3 separate regions of the Homo sapiens genome follow, and all the other regions are linked to region 1. The links come from fine-mapping of genetic effects on gene expression. A gene starts in region 1. Each other region holds a variant in brackets. All regions are shown on one strand. Distances are from middle to middle.

The links. PIP is the estimated chance that this variant, and not a neighbour inherited with it, causes the effect.
Region 2: its variant is the best candidate, but not a certain one, in a credible set for the expression of GASK1B in whole blood (INTERVAL, PIP 0.68).
Region 3: its variant is the best candidate, but not a certain one, in a credible set for the expression of GASK1B in whole blood (INTERVAL, PIP 0.79).

The regions. Positions count from the first base shown.
Region 1 is chr4:158,170,541-158,176,288 of GRCh38, forward strand. It overlaps GASK1B (golgi associated kinase 1B), which reads right to left and starts at 2,485. Exons shown (of 5, transcript NM_001128424.2): 1 at 2,328-2,485; 2 at 1-1,059. The coding sequence starts at 835. It overlaps GASK1B-AS1 (GASK1B antisense RNA 1), which reads left to right and starts at 212. Exons shown (of 5, transcript NR_147410.1): 1 at 212-940. It overlaps LOC101928007 (a long non-coding RNA gene), which reads right to left. Exons shown (of 4, transcript XR_007058350.1): 3 at 3,574-3,726; 4 at 3,148-3,268. RefSeq lists enhancers at 1-488, 662-1,861.
Region 2 is chr4:157,944,288-157,950,035 of GRCh38, forward strand. All of the region lies in intron 2 of LOC105377509 (a long non-coding RNA gene), which reads right to left. Among named protein-coding and RNA genes, the nearest start is that of GASK1B-AS1, 220 kb to the right of the region's middle. The variant A/T (reference allele first, on the strand shown) is at 2,630.
Region 3 is chr4:158,072,085-158,077,832 of GRCh38, forward strand. No RefSeq gene overlaps it. Among named protein-coding and RNA genes, the nearest start is that of GASK1B-AS1, 96 kb to the right of the region's middle. The variant A/T (reference allele first, on the strand shown) is at 3,231.

The DNA of each region.
Region 1 (5,748 bases):
CAAACACCTCACTCATGTCCAAGGGCTGCTTGAGAAGCCCACAGGGGCTAGGGCCACAGCGGAGCACAGCGCCAGGTGCGCCCCCCTCCAGCACCAGCAAACGGGCTCCGCTCCTAGAGGACACAGGCCGGAGCCCTGCCACTGCGCTGTCCGCCAAGAGTCGCATTCTTCGGATGTCATCTTTGCTCAGCCAGGAGGGGGCGCTCTCGCTGTAGATCCTAATGTTGCTCTCCCTGGAGCTGGGCTGCAGGAAGTCTGGGCCCCCGGCTCGCACTCCCGGACCCCGCACCAACCTCCAGGGTCGCTCTCCAATCTTAACCAGGTTTGCTCCCTGAGCGTACCCAGGTGCTACAGCATCAGCTTCCCTTGCCGCTTCCTGCGGCTGAAGGGATGGTCCGACCAAAGCCTCCTGCCCTGGGGCAGCCGATGCCACTGCATGCTTTTTCCTGCGCTTGGGCTTCACGGTGCCACGGATATTGGCCGGCTTGCTGCGCTTGGAGCGTAGGGTAATGTACACCACATTGGGCTGCAGAGTGGACCCATTGCCCTGGGACTCTGGAGGGGCCAGGGTACCATCCAGGGGTATCTCAGGGAAGGATGGCTCGGCGGTGTCGCGGCTGCGATGTGGCCCCTTCTCAGCCGCCTGTCCATGCTGGAGAGAGGCCCTCCCCACCTGGCTCACCAGGAAGCCCAAGTAGATGGCACACGCAGTGCCCAGCAGAAGGTTTCTCCGGGTCCTTGGACGCCGGCTGCTCCAGAGCTTACGCACCCGCGGGACGCACAGGGAGCAGATGAACCAGTTTATGAGCTGCCCCGGCTTGTCTGGACAGGTCATTTCTCTGCCGCATCCACATGTTGAACGGAGTTTAAAGTCTGCAGTTGGCTCCTGCTAATGTGATGCATGGTTTCCTGACTTCAGCTGCCGCGTCCGCTTCGGGATATAAGTGGTCTCCAGTGGGCAGAGGTGGAAGGAAAGGGTTGGTGATGAAGCTGGGAATGTTTCTGACACAACAAACCTTTTAAATTATCAGTCTCCCCAAGGAGAAATGCGGCTTGTTTCTGGGAATGAATGGATACAGAGTTAACTGAGTCACAATTTCAAACCATTTAAGTTCCTCTACAAGAGTCAAGAAAAAAAGTAATCATTTCCTTTCATAAATATCACCACTAAATGTTTTTAAAAATAAAATTTAAAAGCATGCAAACGAGATAGATGTATAGATTTGATAGTCACTTGAAAGTAGTGAAAACAAGCCACAAAAATCCAAGAGTGTTTTATAACTTGTACCTAGAGTCATTTAAGTTGACTCTGAAGCAAAAGCGTTAAAATGTGACAAACCTGGGCTTTTCCTTTTTGAAATTCAGAAAGAACTTAAGACAAGTAATAGATAATTTTTTAATACTCTATACCTATACCATTTTTATTTTTTAAAGTCCTGAATTAACTAAGTACAAGCAGCAAGTATTAACAATAAAATTTAGAAACATATTCTCTTAGTCTAAAGGTACAAATTGTACTTCATATTAATAATATGTTCCATTAGCTTACATTGTTAGTATAATACAAAGCCATAAATGTCCATATATCTTGGAAGCAGTTGCATTTATTCTGTTTCTCTCTCTCTCTCTCTTTCTCTCTCTCTCACACACATACACACACACAACACAACACAACTCTGACTGCTTTTTATTTCTTTTCTTTCCACCGAAGTCAGCTGAAAGAAAATAAAAGCATCTCTAGTTCTGTTTTTTCACTATTAAAAAGAAAAAGAAGAAACTCGTAAGCAACCTTACTTACACAGCTGGCCCCATGCTTGGCTCCAGGAAGAATGTAATCCTTGACTCTAATGCAAAGAACTTTTAAAGGCTGAGGCATGTAAGTAGAACATATTTCATGGTCAAGAGTGTTCCACATTTCAAACATTTCAGTTCAGCTTTAAAAGCTCCCTTGAAAACTACTGATTGCAAAGCAAAACTTGGAAACTGACTGCTGCATGGTTTTAAGAGATACAAAGCTTTTAAAAACAATAGTTAACAAAATAAACTTTAATTTTAAATTCGGAAAAAAGAAATGCCGTAGAGAATCAGTTTTCATTCAAATAAATTTCCACTTATTTTTAACCCCTGGGAGCCCTCTAGTGTCCTGTTCGCAAACAGACTCAGAAATGTCAGTCTCATGAAGTTCAAAAGATCGAGAATGTTTGCTATCTTGGTGGAGCAGCCGCAGCCAAGCAAGTAACTTGTAAAATGAGGAATGCCATCACCCCTCGAGTGTCCATCCCACATAACTTGGGGTTAGAGCACAAGCGTTCCCAGGAACTACTCACCTTACCATCTTGGCCGTTTCATTTGTCTTCCACCAGTTCTGGAAAGAGAAGGCCTAGAAGTTCAGAAAAAAAGGTAAGAAAGAGTTAATATAAATGAGGAGAAAAAATAGAACAGTGAGATAAGAGTACACACAGATAAGGAAAGACATTTATAGTGTGCAATTGCACGGTGCAACAGTTCACAAAAGGAAGTCGTGGATTCTCTCTGATTGGAGGTTTTTTGAAAAAACAGGTTAGGGATTGGCCTGGGTGGTTTGCGTGTCCTAGCACAAAGGCAGGGGCTGATGACCTTGGGGTGTCAATTAGACTATGGCAAATAGAATCAAAAGGCAAGAAGACAGAAAGGGGACAGGGATTTTTCCTCCCCACAGAGAAAGAAAGTTGTGATACTGAAGAGTGGGTAAAAGATTAGCATATGGTGTATAATCCTAAAAATACTATATTTTACAATGCAAAAAGAGCAAGGAGTTGGAATATATAGGGAAGGAGAGAATAAACGTCCAAGTGGTAAATTGACAAAAATTATAATCGGGCTGTTATTTCAGCACTCTAAACTCAGTCCTTTTTTCCTCTTTAAAAGTCCTGCCACATGGAGGAATGAGAAGGAGCAATCCCAATATTGACAGTAGCCTGGAAGTACCTGGATATTTTGGCTAAACTTTGTGAGAATTCAGGCATCAAAACAATTTTATCTGCACTCAAAAACTCTTAGGCACACACTTCCATACACACAGAATTATTTTCTTGATAGAAAATGTGAACTTCTTGCAAGGAAACCATACCAAAGCTGCATTTTATAACCATCTTATTATTTCCACAGTCAAAGGAATAACTGACCTGGCTCTATAACAATTAAAAGTAAGCCTTTGGCAGAGGCCAGTTATAATAAGCAGACATCTCCTCTAGCTGTTTTTAGAGCTATTTTTTTCATGGAGAAATGCCTACGAGATAGGGAGAGTTGTGTGAGTTAGTAAATTTCGTTGACTACCTTCCCACCCCCACTCCAAAAATGTCTCCTAGAAAAAGAACAATACACTGTCCCCTGCTATAGCCACAATAGGGATTCGTGGAGGCTACACTATCTACTCTGAACTATGATATTCAGAGAATGGGCTGAAGAGGGAGGCAGACTGGCTTTAAATTCTCCTCATTTACCTCTTACGTGTGGTCCCCTGTGGCAAGTAATCTTACCTCTCTAAGCCTCAGTTTCCCCCATGTGTAAGAAAAGAAAAATAATAGCACTTACCCTATCGGTTTCTTCTGATGACTGAATGAGATAGCAGCCTTGGAATGATCATTTGAAATATTCAGCAATGTGTTTGTTTTTATCCCCCATGATGCCTCATTAAACTGCTCAGAGGCCTCTCTCCTCAGCCCAGGCCTTGACAGATAGTCACCACTGCACCACAGCAAAGCAATCATGGTAGAATTGAGGACAAGCACACTGAATTATTTGTAGCCAACATATTGATATAGCCAATACAGTGGATAAATGGGGCTTGTCAGATATAATCAGAGCACAATTTTAGTGATTCCCCCCACTGCCCATTGAAACCTGTTCTGTGGCCTGATATCTCTTTTCAACTTTCTTAAATGGAAACTCAGGCAGTCCCCATGACTTTTCCAGTCATACTTAAATTTTTGTAAAAGTTCTCCAGTTGTTAGCCATAGACATACAGACACATAATACACATAAACTAATTAATATGTTTGATTCTATATCACAGTCAATTTCTTTAAAAATTTCTTTTAAATTCCCAGAATTTCTCCAGAAGATAGCAGTCCCTCAAAAAGCATAGCCAAAATCTACTGAAAAGGGACAGAGGAGACCCATCTTACATTCTTTTTTGTTCCTGCCTAGAGCTCTTATTCCTTAACCACTCACCCAGCCGCTCACCCCACTTTGAGCCTGGCTCTGGCTGTTCCAAGGTAGTGGAGAGAGAGAAGCAATAATAGCAGAAATGGCCTTGCTACTCCATTGATACTGCTGCAAATTGACTTATAAGCTCTCCAGGTTTGGCAGGTGTGTAAAGCTGACTCTGAGATAGTTAATTCAAAGACACCACTATCAAAGCATCTCTCTAGCTGGCTGTTGATGGCCCCTTAGTCCCTTGGAACTTGGTAGCCCCCTGTTCTGTTGAGATCACCTCATCTCTCCAGGCTGTTCTCTTAGGCAGCATTTAAGCTGACCTGCAGGCTGGTTTTCTAACTTGGGCCTCTGTGTACTGCCCCACAAGTGATCCAGTGGACATGGTCACCATCATTTGCTCCAGCAACCTCAGACTTCCCAATGCAGCAACCCACCTCCCTTAGCACTGCGGATCCATATCTCATTTTCGAATGTGGAAGCAATTGCCATCAATTGCTCATGGTCTCTGTTGAAACTGAATGGAAAGGTGTTTTTTGCCATCAGGTAGCATGGGAAACAGAGAAGTTTAATTTAGTTTTAGAAAAATAAGGCTAAATTCCTTGAACAAGCGTTAGCTTGAAAATTTGTTGCCACAATATAACATTCGTGTATAACTTACAATATAATCTGTGAGTGAACATATAGAACTCAAAGTATTCATTATTATTAATATTATTAGATCAGAGAGACAAATAATTCTCATGCCTAAAGTACTTTCTCTTCTTAAAAAACAATGAGAGAAATAAAGTGAAAAAGTAGACAGTAAGATAATGGTAGGGACCATCGGAATTACCTGAGGACTTTTTATATCTTTATGGAGGGGCAAGGATGGTGATGGAGAAAAAACATGAGCAAAGCAGGATTGTGGGAATGTTCTGTTTCTTCATTTAGATGGGATTTACCTAAGTATGTTTATTTTGGGATAACACATTGACTATACATTTGTGATTTCTGTACTTTTCCATATTTATATATATCTTATCCTTCAATCAAATTGGAAAAGGTGGTACATAAATAGCTATTTATTTTATATTCTTTATACCTTGTATATATGTTATAAATCTACATAGGAGAGTAGAACAAATAATTTGTTTACAATAAAAAACGCATATTACTTCAGTCATTTAAAAATTAAGTTTAAATATTAAAGAACAGTAAAATCCCTGAAAATTTTAAAAATATATGAGTGTCTAGACCCCATCCATCTTCCCAGAGATTCTAAATGATCTAAAGTAGGGCCCAGGAATCCACAGTTTTAAAAGCTTCTAATGTGCAGAGTTATAATTCACTGTACTATGAGTTAAATACTTAGTTCTAGGAGCAAGTTAACACCTTTTTACAATTAAATGATGTCTTAGGTTTCACTGGCAATGAAGTAATCCGTAAATCCTTCAAGGCTTCCAATAGTAAGATCCTAGTTTGGTAAAGGCTATTTGCCTTCAGTCTGGGACAACTCCTGGACCAGATTAGATAGTGAATCGGGCCTCATTCTTCCACCCACAGCACTCTCAT
Region 2 (5,748 bases), 230 kb before region 1:
ATGGAAGGGATCTCTGTGGCAGAGTCTAAGGATGGTACTGCTAACTACAGTTCCTACTGGAGTCAGTAGACTCCTCCTAGTCCATTTTCTGTTGCTTATAACATAATACATGAAATTGGGTAATTTGTAAAGAAAATAAAGAATTTCTTATGGCTTAAAGGCTGAGAAGTTCCAGGTTGAGGGGCTGCATCTGGTGAGGACCTTTTTACTGGTGGTGACTCTGCAGAGTCCAGGGGCAACACAGGTATCACATGGTGTGGGGGCTGAGAGTTCTAGCTCAAATTTCTCTTCCTTGTCTTATAAAGCCACCAGTCCCACTCCCATGATAACTTATTAATTCATTAACCCATTAATCCAGTAACCTAGTAACCCATGAATAGATTAATTCATTTATGAAGGCAGAGCTCTCATGACCCAATCACCTCTTAAAGGCCCCACCTCTCTCAATACTGTCACATTGAGGATTAAGTTTCAACATGAGTTTTGGATGGAATAAACAATCAACCTGTAGCAGACTCTATACAATTATTTTTATTTTTGTGAATTGCAACTAAACTACAAAAAATATTTTCAAACAGAACAAAAGTCATTTTTTATAATTTCTTACATATTTTACAAATATTTCAGAAAACATTCTATCAGTAAAATATATATATATATGGAAACACATTCATTAACATATTTGTACATTCTTCAGAATATTATGTTGGTCCACTATATTAATGACATCACGGCTTGACATGGGAGTACCAATCAAAAATGGACTGTGGCTTCACTATGCTATGGCCCCCTCCCCAGGTGAACGACAACAGCAAAAGTAAATCTTCCCAATGTACATAGCCTTGATCATGTAACCTAGTCATCCACTTTGTAGAAAGAAAAATAGCCTGCAGGATAAACATATGGCTCAAAGGTAGTGCTTAATGGCTTGGCTACTGGATAGGTGCCTGAAAGAAAAAGAGTAGAATATCAAGGCAAGGATGAATGATGCGTGAGGATGGCCTTAAACAGGTGGACATGAAGTATAAAGATCTCATATCATCCCCCCAAAATGCATCTACCATTGAAGGGGCATTAAACAACCCAGTAAACAGAGTGACCAGGGCTAGTTCACATCACTCTCCCTGTGCCATTGAAATTCCAATGCTGGCACAATGGGAGTACCATGGAGAAGCCATGGTGGCAGGAATGCAGGCCATGCATTACAGTTTAACTTCTGCCTCTCCCTAATCCCACTCCTCTCTCTCTCTCTGTAGTGTTGAGGGCATTCCTCAAAGCATTTTCTGCAAGCAAATCTCCATCTCAGAGACTGTTTCTATGGTAATCTAGATCAACGTATCACTCTTCTGTTCTCTTCCTTCTTCTCTACCTTTTTCCCTCCCTCTCTTCTTTCCTTTCTTTCTTTCTTCTTGTGTGTGGAACACCATCTCCAGACTATGAGGAGTGGAAACCTACTGAAAAATGCCTGTGTCCAGTAAGTTTATGACATTAACTGCCCAGTGATGTCACACTGTGTAGAAAAACTTACATTCTTTCAGAGCAGAGATGGGCAAATTTTTATTTGTTAAGAGACAGATATTAATATTTTAGGTTTTGTGAGCCATATAGTCTCTATTGCAATTACTCAATTCTTCCACTTTAGTGCAAAAGTGGTCATAGACAACATGTAAACAAATGAACTTGATTGAGTTACAATACAAGCTTATTTATAAAAATAGATGGCAGGCCAGACTTGGCCCATTAACACAGACTTGTTTAAAAGCATTCAAGAAAGAGTAGGAGTGTTCACAGTGCCTTGTGGAGGTCAGTTGAGAGAGTGGGTTCAACATTTATGATACAAGTCCTAGAATCTTCTGTGTATAGCATGAGACAAAACTTTATTGGTTTCCTCATGTCTCTCTAGAATTCACAGCCATTAAACAGAGACATTTCCCCATTTTCTTCACTTTCTACTGTCACTGCCCTGACTCAAGGCTGCTACATCCCACCAGCCAGCATCTCCTCCCAGTTGTAGGAAAGTCACCGCCTTTTTAACAGAGCTAAGGCTGTGACCTAGAGTAGTCTCATTTCCACCATGGTGCAGCACAGAAACTGCCACGCCATTGTTTCACAACATTGTAATTGCAAATAGAAAGAACAGTGTAAGAAAACAGAAGATCGGGTCTTGTTAAACAGTCCATGTATTGCTTTACTAATTTTTAATTATTTGAATAGCCAATACATTCCTATAGATCCAAGTCCAGAAGATATAATCAGCTCCATGATAAAACGTTTCTTCCGCCATCCTTTCCCATTTCTGAGGAGTTCCCATCCCCACACCTCATTAGGTAAACACTGTTCTTAGTTTCTGAGGTGTCCTTCCAGTGTTCCTTTATTTTGACTGGGTTTTAATTAACCTGACTATTGTTACTTTGTGCTCACTACTTCTAAGGTAATGACATTTTCATTCTTCTCATTCCTGTGGCTGCATTTAAAATTTACAATTTGAAAGTGCTCTTTCATGTAATGGCACTCGGGGTTCTCATATGAAATGAGAACTAAATAAACACCTGGATATCCAAAACATGTCTGTCAGAGGTAAAATTTTAGGTATTTATATTCATAGGCCATATCTACATGAAGCAGGATC[A/T]TTTGATTTCCTATGATTAGAAAACAAATTTACTTAGCTCTGCAAATGTGGAAGGCCTAGTTGAGAAAACCCAGAGTTAGAATAATTAAGAGTATGGACAGCTGTACAGCAGTGGATTCAAGAGACAGGTTTATACATGGGGGTAAGATGAATCAAGGCAAACAATAGAAAAGAAGACAGCCTGAGGTGACTGAGTGAGAATATAAGAGATGATTTTCTCCTCAAGCACTGAGCTCAGGTCTACGCATTAGTCAGGAAAGCAGGAGCATTATCATCTCTTTAAAGAGGCCTTCAAAAGGAAAGAAAATTATGTTGGTGACTGGTTTCTCTATGTGGGACTAGCCCAAGTTCTACAGACTTAGGGTGGGGTAACACCAAGCATAGTAATGTTTTTGCTTGTATTTTTTAAAGTCAGTTGATTTATTTATTGCATGGAATAAATCCAAACTAAATAACTAATAGTTGATAGATTTTATTCGTTTCTTATGAGTTTTAAAGTGGTCTTCAAATTTCTATTTAAATATCTGAAAAACAAAATACTCTGCTTCTCAGAAAAATTATTTTAAAAAGGATGGAAGGCAATAAAAATGATAATCTTCAAGAAAGTCTGTGAGATAATAAGACACTTTTTCTGGCACTCAGCTCAAGATCTTAATGTTGATGAGGATTTGCCTTAGTGAGGTGGTGGTTGAGGTAATGGGTCCAATAAGAAAATCCCTGCACTCATTCAGACAGGCATTGGCCAAGACCAAAAAAGAAAAATGTATATATCATATTTTTTTTCAAGGAAAGGGAATGCAATTTGATGATGAACTAATTTAAGGTGGTCAAGTTTGTTTTTTGTTATTTATAAGTACAAATGAATTGGTTAAGGAGATATCTAAAAATGCCTCCTTTCCCTGATAGATTTGCTGAGAGTGTGTTGGGGGATACCTTAGCAGCCAATCAATAAGAAAAAACACATCTATAATAAATTGCTAGATGATGCAAATGGTATTATGCTACATATTATTATTATAAACATGTATAGACTTTAATATGAGATTTTTTAAATTCTAATTTCTCTTCCATGTTATATATATTTCTATTTTAAAAAAATAACAGTCATTTCTTTTTAAAATTTTAAAATTGTTTTTAAAATTTAAAAATATAAAAATTTTTATATTTTTAAAAATATAAAAGAAAAGTCATTTCTAAATGATCCAAGAATACCATATGAATTTAATTTCATTCATGTTACCTGGATCAACTTGATTTATTTTCCTGTTCTCAGAAATACCAGTTGATTGTCACTTGTAGAGTACACACAATTTAGAAAATCATCTTAAGAGTTTTTTAGTTAGTTTATATTTGACAATTCAGAAAAAAATACGATTTTATATGGCATCTCAAAGCCCTTAATGTGATTGCACAAATCTGATAACACAAAAATTTCACACTATGTTCTATTACCAAGAATGTTGATTTAATCTTCTGAACCTGATTAATAGTTCTTTTCTGTCATCTGGAAGGTACTGTGTATTCGGAGACTAGATAATAAATCAAGCCTTCTTTAATTTCTGTTCTTGATGACACAAAATTGGATGTGGAGGGAATTTCCACAGTTTTTAAATATGTTGGGAAAAAAATCCTGACTCAACTTTTTTCTTATCACTTCATCTCACATACCTCTACTCTCTTCCTGAAGATAAACTGTTGGGGCCATAATGAATTATTGTAAATGCCTCCCTAGCACTGAATTTTACTGAAACATATTTTCTTCTCAACTAAAACTAAGGCAGTCTGGGCCCTCTTGTTTCCTTCCCAGCTGTTTGCTCATCATCTGTTACCTTTTCTTTCTCTAATGTGGTTACATTGGATGCTATAGATACTTAACCATGCTAATAAAACTGTCTCCTAAAAATATTAAGATATTTTAAATTGTATAATAAACTAATTAATTTCCAACTAAATGTAATGATATAAATGGCACTTCAAACAGGCACAAGGGTACATTGTCAACATAATATAACATTTTGTTCCAAATATTTCTATAGTTTATTAATGTTACACCAACATTAATAAAATTATGTAGCCAGTCATATGACACATCTTTCTTAATTGAGGAATATGCCTTCTAAAGAAAGTTATGAGCTGAGTTCAAAATATAAGAAAAAAGTTATTCTATGAGGTGAGGAGGACTAAAAGCAAAATATATCAATAACTATATTAAAATATATTTGAAGTCAGACTCTTTATTATATGGGTATTCACTTAAGTCTAGAAAGCATCCTCTAATTACACCAATTTATAAATAAGTTATCTATTGACTCTCCCTCCAGTTTGTTGTACTAAATTAACATTGGTCTGATGTTTTTGAAATTCTCTTGGCAAGATTCAAGATTTGCTCTCTATGGTTAAAATGCTAATAAAAATACTTAGCACACTACTATTTCTAGTTGTTTTCTTTTCCCAGTATACTAGAATCTGGATATATTATAGAAATTAGATACTACCTAAATGCAATGCCTCACACCTGTAATCCCAGCACTTTGGGGAGGCCGAGGCGGGGAGATCACCTGAGGTCAGGAGTTCGAGACCACCCTGGCCACAACATGGTGAAACCCGGTTTCTACTAAAAATACAAAAATTACCCAGACGCGGTGGTGCATGCCTGTAGTCCCAGCTACTAGGGAGGCTGAGGCTGGAGAAACACTTGAACCCTGGAGGCAGAGGTTGCAGTGAGCAGAGATCGTGCCACTGCACTCCAGACTGGGCGACAGAGCAAAACTTTGTCTCAAAAAAAAAAAAAAAAAAAAAAGATACTATAACCTCTAGCTCAGTATAGTAACCTCAGCTTCAAATATTCTAAGACTACAAATACTATTACTTATTTACTAATGTGGAAACAATTAAGTTTCTTAAAGAAGAATCCTTGTGATGATGGTAGTCACAGAATATAACCCACCTTTCAGGCTGATGAGTTGCCAATTAATGTATAATTAGCTTAAAATGTCCTTTATATTTTAGTGACTCCCATAGGGAAACTCTCATTCTCTTTCACATACTATAGCTTGTGACTTTTTACTTATTGACACCTACTGCTAAGACCTTCCTGAAGTCATTTTTTTTTTCAATTT
Region 3 (5,748 bases), 98 kb before region 1:
AATAAATGTCAGATCAGGAATGGTCACTTCGGAGACAGGCCGTGACAGCTGTTCAATGCTGTCACATAACTGCATAAGAGGAAGCAGAGGAATTTGCAAAGAGTTAGTGAGATAGATAAAGCAAAAATTGAAAGCACATCAGTAACCAAACGAAAGAAACAAAAACTAAAAGAACAAAACTGGACACTGAATTTTAAGGGGAAAAAAATTATACAGTTTTCACACACACAAAAAAAAAATGGGGCTAGATGCAGTAGTGTGGGTCTGTAATCCCAGCTACTTGGGAGGCTGAGGCAGGAGGATTGCTTGAGTCCAGCCCCAGCAACATAGTGAAACCCTGTCTCTAAAAAAAAAAAAAAAAGGAAGGTAAAAAACTATAAACAAACAAAACCCTTTTGAAAAAAAATGGGTCATGAAGAGATTTATTTCATTCAAAGTTTGCTTCCTCAAAGACTACAAATCATTCGCAAACACTTAACTCATGGATAGTTTCCATAGTGACACAGAAAACCCAAAATGGAAACAGTTTTTATAGGTTCTTAACCCATATAACAGACAAAACTGTCTAGAACAGTGGTTACAATTCAGACTATAGATGACTACAAGCAATTCTATAAGAAAAGTGATTGATAAGGAAATGATAACTCAGGGTGTGGTGGCTCAGGCCTGTAATCCCAGCACTTTGGAAGGCTGAGGAGGTGGATTGCTTGAGCCCAGGATTCAAGACCAGTCTGGGCAACATGGCAAAACCCTGTCTTTACAAAAAAAAAAAAAAAAAAATACAAAATCCAGCCAGGCGTGGTGGTGCACGCCTGTATTCCCAGCTACTCAGGAGGCTGAGGCAGAAGGATCACTTAAGCCTGAGAAGTTGAGGCTGCAGTGAGCTGTGATTGCACCACTGCACTCCAGCCTGGGTGACAAAGTGAGACCCTGTCGAAGAAAGAAAGAAAGAAGGAAAGAAAGAAAGAAAGAGAGAGAGAGAGAGAGAGAAAGAAAGAAAGAAAGAAAGAAAGAAAGAAAGAAAGAAAGAAAGAAAGAAAGAAAGAAAGAAAGAAAATAAGAAAAGAAAGAAAGAGGAGGGGAGGGGAGGGGAGGGGAGGGAAGGGAAGGGAAGGGAAGGGAGGAAGGGGAGAAAGAGAGAAAGAAAGAGAGAAAGAAAGAGAAGGAAGGCAGGAAGCCTGGCTCACAATATTCTAAAGCAGTAGACCACACATAGTCACATATTGAAGCAATCATGAATTGCTATACAAAGTAATACTTCTATATTTCTTAAAGTGTAGACTGTATTGAGGAAAATTGTTGATTCCACCCTCTTCCCCTAACAGGTTTAATATGACCCGCTGTGGTTGAAAAACATCAACATAAGCTGTTGCTACGCTATTTATGTACACATCTCTAAAAAACAGTTTATGAAAATAAATGTATATGTAAACTTTTTTATTTACATGTTTGTCTATACACACAAGGAATAAAAAGTATTATTACAGGGCAATGATGAAATGCTATTTGTCTCTAGTTGCTCTTAACCCTTATTAAATAATCACTACTGCTCTTTATACTTCCCTTCTCTTTCATTTAGCGGAGAGAAAATTGCTGGGCTATTTTGTGCCACCAACATAGCCCTTCCGAACTGAGAGACTTGCTATAATTATGCTGCCTCATCTTTAGATTTCTCCAGCCTGTGTCTCCTTTCTATACTGGAAAGCAAAGGCAGAACTCCAAGATTGGATTCTTTGAGTTGACCCACTGCACAGTTCTCCCTACTTTCCATCCCACCTCTAACACCCCTGCGTGAGTTAAGAAGACTACAATTCTGATATTTCCTTACAGGAGTCCCAGTTACACCATCTATGAGCAGATAGGATTTTGTAGATTATTTCACTCTTTCATTAGCCACTGAAAATGAAAAACTCCAAGGGTTAGAATTATGAAATAGCCTACATTTTCCCTGTTATTATTCTAAAGCGTCCAATGTAATCAGGAATCTCCTTATTATGAATTATTTTTATTAATTAAGGGGACAGTGAGTTTAATCCTATTGTTACTTATTACATGCTAAATGTTAGGTTTCTTAATGTAAAAGCTGATCAATCATATGTGACACTTTAATAGAGTTTGTTGAAAGCAGAGACGTTCTGATCATCTGTTTAGCAATACACTTCTTCATCCAAAAGGTATTTACTAGGTTGATTTTTTAAATCCAGAAACCATTACACTGCCTACTGCCCTCACTGACAAAGAAAGTCAATGGCAGCAAAAGAAGTGGATCTCCATGGCATTATGAACGCATTATTAGAATAACTATAAAAAGAGAAGTCAACAAAAGAACTCATGGAAGGCAGAGGATGAAAAACAAAACTACTGAAGATGAGAAGAAAGGTTCTATCTGTAAAAAAGTAGTTGAAAAATTATAAAAACTTTGATATGGGAAATAATTCAATTCAGATATTTTATTAATATTTAATAAGTATAAACTTTTTTACATTTTTTAGATTTTTCCTGCACATACTTACATGCATTTAATCCTCACAGCCCATACAGAGTGACATATGCATAAACCCATGAAGCTTATCACCACCATCAAAATACTGTATGTTTCCATCACTCATAAATGTGTAATTTCTTTCATACTCCCCTATTCAGGTAAACACGAATTTCTTTTATGTTACTATGGACTAGCATGCACTCTCTAGAGTTATATGTAAATGGAATTATAAAGTATGTATTTATTTTCTGTCTGGTTTCTTCCCCTAATCCTAATTATCTTAAAATTCATCCATTTTGGTCTTTGTATTAATAGTTCATTACATTTTGTCGCTCAGTCGTGTTACGTTGTAAGAATATACCACCACTTGTTTACCCATTCACATGTTGATAGACATGTGGATTGTTTCCAGTTTCTGGTTATTACAAATCAAGCTGCTATGAACATTTGTGTACAAGTCTTTGAGTAATTTTCTTGGGTAGAAACCTAGGAACTACACGGCTGGATCATCTGGTAGTTGCATGTCACTTTCAAAGATGCTGTCAAACTGTTTTCCAAAGTAGCAGTATCATTTCACAATCCCACCATCAGTATGCCGGTATTCAGTTCCTCCACATTCTTGCCCATACTCTTTGTATGGTCAGTTTTTAAATTTTAGCCATTTTTGCATGGTCTGTAGTGACTTCTCATTGTGGTTTTAATTTGCATTTGCTTAATAATTAATAAGTGAACATCTTTTTAGGTG[A/T]TTTTTTGCCATTTGTAAATCTTCAAGTCTTTTGCCTACTTTTTATTGGGTTGGTCCTTTATTATCATTCTTACTATTATTGAGTTTTGAGAGTTCTTTACATATCCCAGATACATGTCCTTGTATCTTCTTGTATTATTCTTTCACGGATTGTGCTTTTGCTGGTATGTTCTATCTAGGATTTCTTTGCCTAACATTAGATACAAGATTATCCTCTCTATTTACATCTAGAATTATTATCATGTTAGATTTGTCACTTAGGTCTGTGATTCATTTTGAATTAACTTCTTTATATAATTGAATACAGTATGAACCAAAATATATGGGGTTTTGTGTATTTGTTTTTGCATATGGATATACACTTGTGCCAACATCAGTTGTAAAGGCTATCTTTTCTCCATGGAATTTTTTCATTTTTTCACCTTCCTCAAAAATTGATTGTCCACATATGTGTGGGTTTATTTCTGGACACTATTCTTTTCCATTGATCTGTTTGTCTATCTTTATGGCTGTGTGAAATTCTTTGATTTCTGTAGCTTTATAAATGGTTTTGAAACTAGGTATTATAGCATTAGTCTTCCAAATTTGTTCCCTTTTTTCAGTTGTTTTGGCTATTCTAAGTCTTTTGTATTCCTATATGAGTTTTAGAATCAGCTTCTCAGTTTCTACAAAAAAAAAAATCTTACTGGAATTTTGATTAGGATTCCATTTAATCTATTTATGAATTTAAGGAGAATTGACATTTTACCAATATTGAATGTTCTGACACATAAATAAGGTAGCGGGGTATATACTGCCATTTATTTAGGTCTTCTTTAATTTTTCTCAATACTTTGTAGTTTTCAGTAAATGAATCTTTCATGTCCTTTGTATTTTACTTTTTGAGGCTACTGTGAATGGCACTTTTTTATCAATTTATGATTATTTATTGCTAGTATAGAAATACAATAAATTATTGTTGACTACTGACCTTACTTTCTGCAACCTTGCTAAATTTATTAGTTATAGTCTTTTTTTTTTTTGTAGATTCCATTGGACTTCCTACACAGATAATAATAGCATCTGCTAATAAAGACAGTTTTATTTCTTTTCCAATTTGAATGTCTTTTTTTTTTTCTTGCTAATGCACTGGCCACAATTTTCCATACAGTATTGGATAGAATTGGTAGGAACAAACATTCTTTTTTTATTCTTGATCTTAGGAGAAAATAGTTTATCAGTGTAGGAAGTTCTCTTCTATTCCTAGTTTACTGATAGTTTTTACCAGGAATGGATGATGAATACTGTTAAGTTCATGTATTTATTTAGATGATTATATGGCTTTTTTGGTAGTTTTTAGTTTTTAATACAGTGATTACATTGACTGATTTTCAGGTATTAAGCAAATCCTGCATTCCTGCAATATACACCACTTCATTATTTTGTATTATTCTCTTTATATATTGTTAGATTCAATTTGCTAACACTTTGTTTAGAAATGTTGTGTCTATGTTAATAAAGGGTATGTTCTGTAATTTTCTTTCATTGGAATGCCTTTTTCTTGTATTTTTTTTCTTTCCTGTATTTGTATTAGAGTAATGATGACCTCAGTGAAAGGGTTAGGATATATTCGCTGCTTTTCAATTACATGGAAGAGTTTGTGTAAGTTTATATTTTTCTTAAGTATTAATGGAATTTATTATTGAAGCCATTTGGGCCTACAGTTTGCTTTGTTGGAAAAAAATTGCTATAAATTCTAATACTTTGATGGATATAGGGCTATTTAGTTTGTCTTCTTGAGTGAGCGTTAGTAGTTTGTGTCTGTCAAATAATCCATTCATTTCATCAAAGTTCTAAAATTTGTACGTATAAAGTTTTTCATAATATCTCCTTTCTATCCTTTTAATAGCTATTGGATACTCAGTGAAGTCAACCATTTCATTCCTGAGATTTCTGACTTCTCTGTTTTTTGCCTAATTAGTATGGCTAAAGTTTCATCAATTTTATTAGACTTCTCAGAAAACCAACTTTTATTGATTTTCTCCATTTTATTGTCTTTATTTCATTGATACCCACTTTGGTCTTTATTATTTCTTTTCTTACTTTGGGCTTAATTTGTTCTTCTTTTTCTAATGTCTTTTTTTGTGTGTGAGGCGGCGTCTGGCTCTGTCTCCCGGGCTGGAGTGCACTGGCGCGATCTCGGCTCACTGCAAGCTCCGCCTCCCGGGTTCACGCCATTCTCCTGCCTCAGCCTCCCGAGTAGCTGGGACTACAGGCGCCCGCCACCACGCCCGGTTAATTTTTTGTATTTTTAGTAGAGACGGATGTCACCATGTTAGCCAGGATGGTCTCGATTTCCTGACCTCGTGATCCGCCTGTTTCGGCCTCCCAAAGTGCTGGGATTACAGGCGTAAGCCACCACGCCCAGCCTCTAATATCTTAATATAGAAGCTGAGGTCATCAATTTGAGACCTTTCTTATTTTCTACAGGTGTTTACTGCCATTAATTTCTCATAAATACTACTTTCATGGCATTACA